2 linked regions of the Homo sapiens genome follow. The protein of the gene in region 2 interacts with the protein of the main gene of each other region in a pairwise test. Each region holds a gene or a part of one and is shown on either strand. Other genes may lie near its edges. The genes, in order: GTF2H5 and ANKRD29.

Region 1 (3,811 bases), on a different chromosome or scaffold from region 2:
AGCTTGGGAGTCTGTGGTTTATTGGGTGACTGAAAAAAAGGAAAAATCGGCATATAAGGCTTAATGAGAATGAGGATCTCCGGGATGACACTGACATGCAACTGAATGGCAACAACAGCTGGTGACAGGAGGATGAATGGGGTATTTTACAAACAGAGCATAATGGTCACTGATTTAAGCAGATACAAAAAAATGTTAAACTTCACATTTTCAGCAATTCTCTAATTTGAGTATTATACAGAATAAGAATTTAAATGAAAAGATTTTCTAGAACAGTAAGACACTGTACACTGAGAAATTTCAGAGGTAAACAATTGATTAATTATTGACAAAGAGCACAGGTGGAAACATAAAATAGAAAAAAGCTTGAAGAGCAATTCTAGAAGGAACGTGGGGTTGATGAAGCAGGTTAAACAGGGTGCTTCCCGATGATATTGCAGAAAGGAAAATGAGGCCTATAGGACAGAGAAACCAAAGTTTCAGTTTCTTGAAAACCATTGTTTTTCTACTCAGACTCTTTAAAAATTTAGTTGTTTCCCTCAAATCTTCCTTGCACATACAAATAAAGGTAGAAGGGGAGGGACTGGTGGGGAGAATAAAAGGAGAGTAATTCAACAGTAGACAGGTATGATGGCTGGGGAGGGGAGAGTCAGACAAAAACCTGGACTTCAGTGCTCTACAATTAAGCTTTCCTTGCAAACAAGGGAGGACTCATATGACCGTGGTGCCCACTTCACTCTCCAGGCCCCACAAGTACTTCAATATATTCTATAAAAATCATAGAGGTTTCTTAGTATACACTTTACACAATGGGATTGTAAACCAAAAATAAAGTTCTAAGCACCCCACCCCCCATCTGCCAACTGACTGATGGACCCTCCCCTTGGCTAAGGGCATTCCAAAGTTAACCTGAAAAACTAGTTCAGGCCATGATGGGAATGGGGGTTGGGCATGCCTCATACCCACCTCCCTTTGAATTCAGGCATAGCTGACCAGTATTAACATTAAAACAGAGATCTTGGCCGGGTGCGGTGGCTCACGCCTGTAATCCCAGCACTTTGGGAGGCCGAGGCAGGCGGATCACGAGGTCAGGAAATCAAGACCATCCTGGATAACACGGTGAAACCCCATCTCTACTAAAAATACAAAAATTAGCCAGATGTGGTGGCAGGCACCTGTAGTCCCAGCTACTCGGGAGGCTGAGGCAGGAGAATGGCATGAACCTGGGAGGCGGAGCTTGCAGTGAGCCAAGATCGCGCCACTGAACTCCAGCCTGTGCAACAGAGCGAGACTCCATTTCAAACAAACAAACAAAAAAACAGAGATCTTAAGACCCAGGTAACAGACTTTTTGTAGGAATAAAACACCAAATTCCAGCTTGACTTTTGTAAAGCATCACATGGCAGATGGCAGGCCCTGAAAGAAATTGTATTTTACACCAAAATATGTTTCTTTGACATATTTTGAGACGGCCCTGCAAAGCTGTCTCTTGTGGGAATAATCGACTCTGTAGAGACTCTCCATTCCTTTCCAGGTCTTTTCCCTGATCCAGGGGAGTCTGGCACCTTTTTAGGTCTGATAAGAGCTCTGGGCCAGGTGCGGTGGCTCACATCTGTAATCCCAGCACTTTGGGAGGCTGAGGTGGGTGGATCACCTGAGGTCAGGAGTTCGAGACCAGCCTGGCCAACATGATGAAACCCCGTCTCTACAAAAAAATACAAAAATTAGCCGGGCGTGGTGGCAGGCGCTTGTAATACTACCTACTCAGGAGGCTGAGGAAGGAGAATCGCTTGAACCCAGGAGGTGAGGGGTGTAGTGGGCCGAGATCACACCATTGCACTCCAGCCTGGGAGACAAGAGGGAGACTTCGTCTAATAAGAACAAAACAAAACAAAACACAAAACAAAACACAAAACAAAACAAAAACAACTCTGAAGCCTGCTACCTGGAGACTTCATCTGCGTGATAAAACCTTGGTCTCCACAGCTCTTTACCTTAACCCACACATTCCTTTCTATTGATTCCAGGTCTTTAGATAATAACTCTTTCAATCAACTGCCAATAAGAAAATCTTTGAATCTACCTATGACCGGGAAGCCCGCCCCCCATTCCCCTTGCTTTGAGTTGTCCTGCCTTTCCAGACTGAACCAATGTACATCTTACATGTATTGATTGATATTTTGTCTCCCTAAAATGTGTAAAACCAAGCTGTAGCCCGAACACCTTGGGCACAAGTTGTCTGGACCTTCTGAGGATATGTCATGGGCATGTCCTTAACCTTGGCAAAATAAACTTCAAAATTGATTGAGACTTGTCTCAGATACTTTTTGATTTACAGGACCAACAGTTGTTTTGTGTTAGCCCTTTAAAATAAACTTTGGATCCAAATGTAACAGTAATAAAAGACAAACTGGACATTGAAACATTGCTGTCTGCATGTGATAGATTAACTTGTTACAGTTTGAGCTCAGTACATTCAGATGACACCAATTTATTCTCAGTAACTGGCTACTACTAACAGGTATTAAAGGCAGCAAGAGTTAAGTGGTTATGAAGACTTTGGGAATTTTCTAAATGGAATAAATTTACATCATCTTAATGAAGTCAGAGCTAAACCACTAAAACCAAGAAGCGCCTCAGGACTCATATCTGTGCTGAATCATCACACCAATGCTTTCAAAATGTTTGCCATTTGTATACCATCCTTGCTATTTTAGCCATCTCTTGTAACATCTCTGTTGCAAATCACTTAATATTTTTCTTTAAATTGCCTTTAAATCAACTAACGTTTCATCTGGCATAAAACCAAGAGTTTGATATGTCAGTTTCCTCTTCTCCTCAAATAAATTAAACTGGTCATATAAAAAATTTTTTTGCTCTCTTTATTTTTTTTGAGACAGAGTCTCACCGTCACCCAGGCTGGAGGGCAGTAGGCGTCATCACGGCTCACTGCAGCCTTGACCTCCTGGGCTCAGATGATTCTCCCACCTCAGCCTTCCCAGTAGCTGGGACTACAGGCACATGTCACTGCACCCAGATTTTTTTTGTATTTTTTTGTAGAGATAGGGTTCTGTTATGTCGAACTCCTGGACTCAAGCAACCCACCCGCCTCGGCCTCCAAAAGTGTTGGGATTACAGTTGTGAGCCATTGAGCCTGGCCTATTTTTCTATTCTACTCCCCCAAAATGTATGTTCTTCAAATCATCTTGAACACTAATGGTATTCCGCACACTTGGGGAAATATGCTAACTGACAAATGAGACAGCTTAGAGGAATGACTGGCCAGTGAACACTGAAATAACGCTTTAATATCAATCGCTTCAAACTTTTTTTTTTTTTTTTTTTGAGACAGGGCCTCACTCTGTTGCCTAGGCTGGAGTGCAGTGGCACAATCCCAATTCACTGCAGCCTCAACCTCCTAGGGATGAGGTAATCCTCCCACCTCAGCCTCCTGACTAACTGGGTCTACAGGCGCACGCCACCATGCCTGGCTAATTTTTGTATTTTTTGTAGAAATGGGGTTTCACCACATTGCTCAGGCTGGTCTTGAACTCCTGGGCTTGGGCGATCCTCCAGCCTCGGCTTCCCAGTGTTGGGATTACAGGCGTGTGCCACCGTGTCTGGCATGCCTCAAACTTTTGAAAGACAATTTGAGATTGAATTTTCAAGCATGTACCTGAAGTAAAGATAACATGTAATGATTTAAAAAGACTCTTTAATTATTAAAAAAAAAAAAAAGACACTCAAAGTTTAAGGGACATTTTGTCATGAAACACAAAGAGCCTGGAATATTCCTATCTGAACACAGAGC
Region 2 (4,308 bases):
CCTGAGGTCAGGAGTTCAAGACCAGCCTGGCCAACATGGTGAAACCCCGTCTCTACTAAAAATGCAAAAATTAGCCGGGCGTGGTGGCACATGCCTGTAATCCCAGCTACTCGGGGGGCTGAGGCAGGAGAATTGCTTGAGCCCGGGAGGCAGAAGTTGCAGTGAGCTGAGATCATGCCATTGCACTCCAGCCTGGCTGACAGAGTGAGACTCTGTCTCAAAAAAATAAATAAAATAAATAAATAAAAATGACTGCATCACTTCATACTCCTACCAGCAATGCATGCAGATTCAATTTCTCCACATCCTTGCCAACATTCGTCATTGTCTTGCTGATTAAAGCCATCCTAGCGGGTATGAAGTGGTATCTCATTACAGTTTTGTATTTGCATTTCCAAGACCATGGCTAATAATGTTAAGCATCTTTTCAGGTGCTTACGGGCCATTTGTAAACTTCTTGGGAGAAATGTCTATTCATATGTCCACTTTAAAATTAGGCTTTATTTGTCTTTTTATTGTTGAAGTGCCTATCATCATTTAAAGATGCTCAAGTCTCTACCATTTTAAAGCAAACAAACACTTGGTCAATTCCAGATCCTTGCTGCAGCCACTGCCTTTTAAAAAGAATCTCTGGGTTGGGTGCCGTGGCTCATGCCTCTAATCCCAGCACTTTGGGAGGCTGAGGCGGGCGATCACGTGAGGTCAGGAGTTCGAGACCAGGCTGGCCAACATGGCGAAACCCCGTCTCTACTAAAATTACAAAAAATTAGCTGGGCTTGGTGTCAGGCACCTGTAATCCCAGCTACTCAGGAGGCTGAGCCAGGAGAATCGCTTGAACCCGAGAGGCAGAGGTTGCAGTGAGCCAAGATTGCGCCACTGCACTCTAGCCTGGGTGACAAGAGCAAGACTTTGTCCAAACAAACAAACAAACTAACAAAAATCTGTTTCTTGCAGAATTTCTTGAAAGAGTTCTCCACACTTGTGGATTCTACCCACTCTCTTTCAAGCTATTGCAATCTGGCTCCTGATCCTAACACCACTGAAAGTGCTCTTGGCAAGGTCACCAGTGCCTATTCCGTCACTAAATCCAATGGACTTTTCAATTCTTTGTTTATTTGATTTCCCTGTGGCATTAATAAACATCAAGGTCCTCTTCATCTTTGTTGAAAGATTAGAGATGCTTGGTGTAAGTGACAGCACATGCTTCTGAGTTTTCTCATTCGTCTCTGGCTGCTCTTTCTCAAATCTTCTTCAAGATTTTGTCCTCAGTCCTCTTATTTTCCACCTTTATATGGTTCCACTGGGCAATCATGTTCATTCCCATGGGTGCCTACTTAACACTGCTGACTCCTAAATCTCATCTCTAGCTGCTGCCCAGACTTGCCTCCTGGGATCGAGGAGAGTATATCTGTCTAATCAACATCTCTGCTTGGATTCCCATCTATCCTCAAAATTTATCCCAAACCAAACGTTTTATCTTTATCTCTCTTGCCTTCCCTACTGAATTATGCCGATTTAAAACTTTTAAAGTCGGCCGGGCGTAGTGGCTCACGCCTTTAACCCCAGCACTTTGGGAGGCCAAGGAGGGTGGATCACCTGAGGTCAGGAGTTCGAGACCAGCCTCGCCAACATGGCAGAACCCCGTCTCTACTAAAAATACGAAAAAATTAGCTGGGCATGGTGGCGCACGCCTGTAATCCCAGCTACTCTGGAGGGTAAGGAAGGAGAAATAGCTTGAACCCGGGAGGCGGAAGTTGCAGTGAGCTGAGATCACACCATTGCACTCCAGCCTGGGCAACAAGAGCAAAACTCCGTCTCAGGAAAAAAAACTTTAAAGTCATTCACATTCGTCTGCTTCGTTCCATTCTCACCACCTATGCACTGGTCCAGTACCATTTCTTAAAAAGATGACAACATCTTCCAGCTCCAACCCTCTTCTCCAAACCTAGCCAGAGATCTTTGCAACATGCACATCTCGCCATGTCACTCCTCTGCTTACATGAGCTATTGTCGGCAACGGGATTACAGTGGCTTAGGAGTCAGACACACTTGGGTTTCAGTCTTAACACCATAACTTATTGGCTGCAAAACCGTGGGTGAGTTAATTTCTCTATATCTTAGTTTTCTCATTTGAAAAAAAAAAAAAAAAGAGCCACGAAGAGCACCTCCCACAGGTCTCCCCCAGGGTTGAGACCATACACACCATGTCCTTGGTTCAGAGTCAGGCACATTTGAACTGTTTAATACATTTTAACTGCTATTTTTATTAAACCCTTTCAATCGAGGCAAATCAACCTCTTTCATCCTAAAATGTGGGGATTAGATGGAATGACTTTAATCAACTCTTTTGAGACAAGACACCTTTGGACCCTGAAGCCTCCCTGGGTGCTGGCCACCCCTCCGGGGAGGAGGCATCCGTGGGTGCAGCTGGTACTCCTGCATGAGGACCCAGAGGGTCAGGGTCGGGGACTCCTTCTGCTGCAGGACAGCGCTGACCCCAGGCTTCTTACCCGCCCCCGACCTGTTACCCGGCGACAGTCCCCGCCGCCCCGTCGCCGGGCACAGACTCAGCCGATCCACAGCCATGAGTGCGAAGCCTCTCAGGCAGGGCAGGCAGGCAAACCGCAAACCCACAGGGCGCACCCAGCCCCGCCGCTTCCTCCCGGGCCTCGCCCGCAGCTGGAGGAGAGAGGAAGGAGGAGGCGGCGGGCAGCGGGCAGCGCCCACCCCATCCCACCCCATCCCACCCCACCCGACCCCGCGGGCCCGGCCGCCCGAGCCCGGCCCCAGCCCTGACCCCGGAGTCCCGGTCGCTCACCTTGAAGGACATCCTGCACATGTCCGCGGCCGCCCGAGCGGGAGCCGGCGCGCTTTGGGCCCGGGGCGCCTTGTCCTCCCCGGCCCTTCACTCTCCCGGGGCTCTCGGCGTTCCGCAGAGGGGCGGCCTCCGACGCCGCGCGCTCCCGCCGCCCGGCCCGGCAGCAGCCGCCGCACACAGGGCCGGGCCGAAGGGGCGGCGCGGGGGCGCGCGCGCGCGCACACTACACATGGGGTGTCGCGTGGACGCGCTCCAGGACCTGCCACACACGCGCGTGCACAAACACCCCAAACTCCGCACGCACTGTGCACTTTCCACACACGTCCACACTTCCACACTCACTCGTCCACACACACACTCCAAACTCCACACACATTGTGCATACGCTCCACATTCCACACACACAGAGGTTCCACACACATACTTTCCACACTCACGCCCACTCACCCGCATGTACTCACACACAAACTCCATACATATCCTCCCAAATAGACTGGTCTGCCCCAGAGGACTCCCAACCTTCATTACAGCACAAATATTATAATGATGTAAAAATGAAGCTTGAGGAAAAAATTCATCCAATAGCTATTTTCGTTATAATTTCTTTCTCGGTTTCCTGGGAAACTTTTTTCTCCTGGGGAAAATATCTAGGAAACAAACCTTTTGATTGCACAAACAATAAGTGGTCTTTTCCTCTTTGAAGGGCAAAGGCCAATTTTGGAATAGACTCATACCCCTCCTCCTCCTCCGCGTTATTAATCCAGCAGTTCCCTCCTCCTCTGGGTCTGATGCTGCAGCCCTGGAGTATTGCAGTATGTGTGTCCACTCCTGCTGCCTGCCCAGGATTGGTTTGGGCGAAGTAAAACTGGGAGTTTTAAGTATAAACGGCAACAACAGCTCTTTGAGAGCATTTTAGAAAAGTGAAAGTAAAAAAGTAGCCCAGGCATAGTGGCTCACGCCTATAATCCCAACTCTTTGGGAGGCCAAAGGCGGGCAGATCACTTGAGTCCAGGAGTTCGAGATCAGACTGGCCAACATGGCAAAACTCTATCTCTACTAAAAATACAAAAATTAGCCAGGCGTGGTGGTGCGCACCTGTAGTCCCAGCTACTCGGGAGGCTGAGGTGGGAGGATCGCTTGAACCTGGGAGGTTGAGGCTGCAGTGAGCCAAGATTCGGTCACTGCACTCCAGCCTGGGCAACAGAGCAAGACTCTGCCTCAAAAATAAAAATAAAAACAAAACAAAAAAATAGTATAAAAATGGAGGTCTTACCCCCTCAAACTATAAGAATCCACTCATTCATTCTCCCCCTCCTTCCCTCTTCTCAATTAAATTTGTAACGAATATTTAATTTAAAAGGTAGAAAACAATTACAAATAAAAGTTAATGATAAAAATTAAAATGTTTAACCTTCATGGATAAATTGTATTACTTTGTGCTTAAAACAACTTTAAATTAAAAACATTCTGAACTTTTATAGAAAATTCCA

What was found.
Region 1: the proteins of ANKRD29 (region 2) and GTF2H5 interact in binary tests that used the Homo sapiens proteins (3 or more experiments, as listed by UniProt).

What each region holds. Positions count from the first base shown.
Region 1 is NC_000006.12:158,185,075-158,188,885, reverse strand, and holds part of GTF2H5 (general transcription factor IIH subunit 5), read right to left. Parts: intron 1-3,811. UniProt on the Homo sapiens protein: Component of the general transcription and DNA repair factor IIH (TFIIH) core complex, which is involved in general and transcription-coupled nucleotide excision repair (NER) of damaged DNA and, when complexed to CAK, in RNA transcription by RNA polymerase II.
Region 2 is NC_000018.10:23,659,892-23,664,199, forward strand, and holds the start of ANKRD29 (ankyrin repeat domain-containing protein 29), read right to left. Parts: upstream 3,021-4,308; 5' UTR 2,840-3,020; coding exon 2,819-2,839; intron 1-2,818.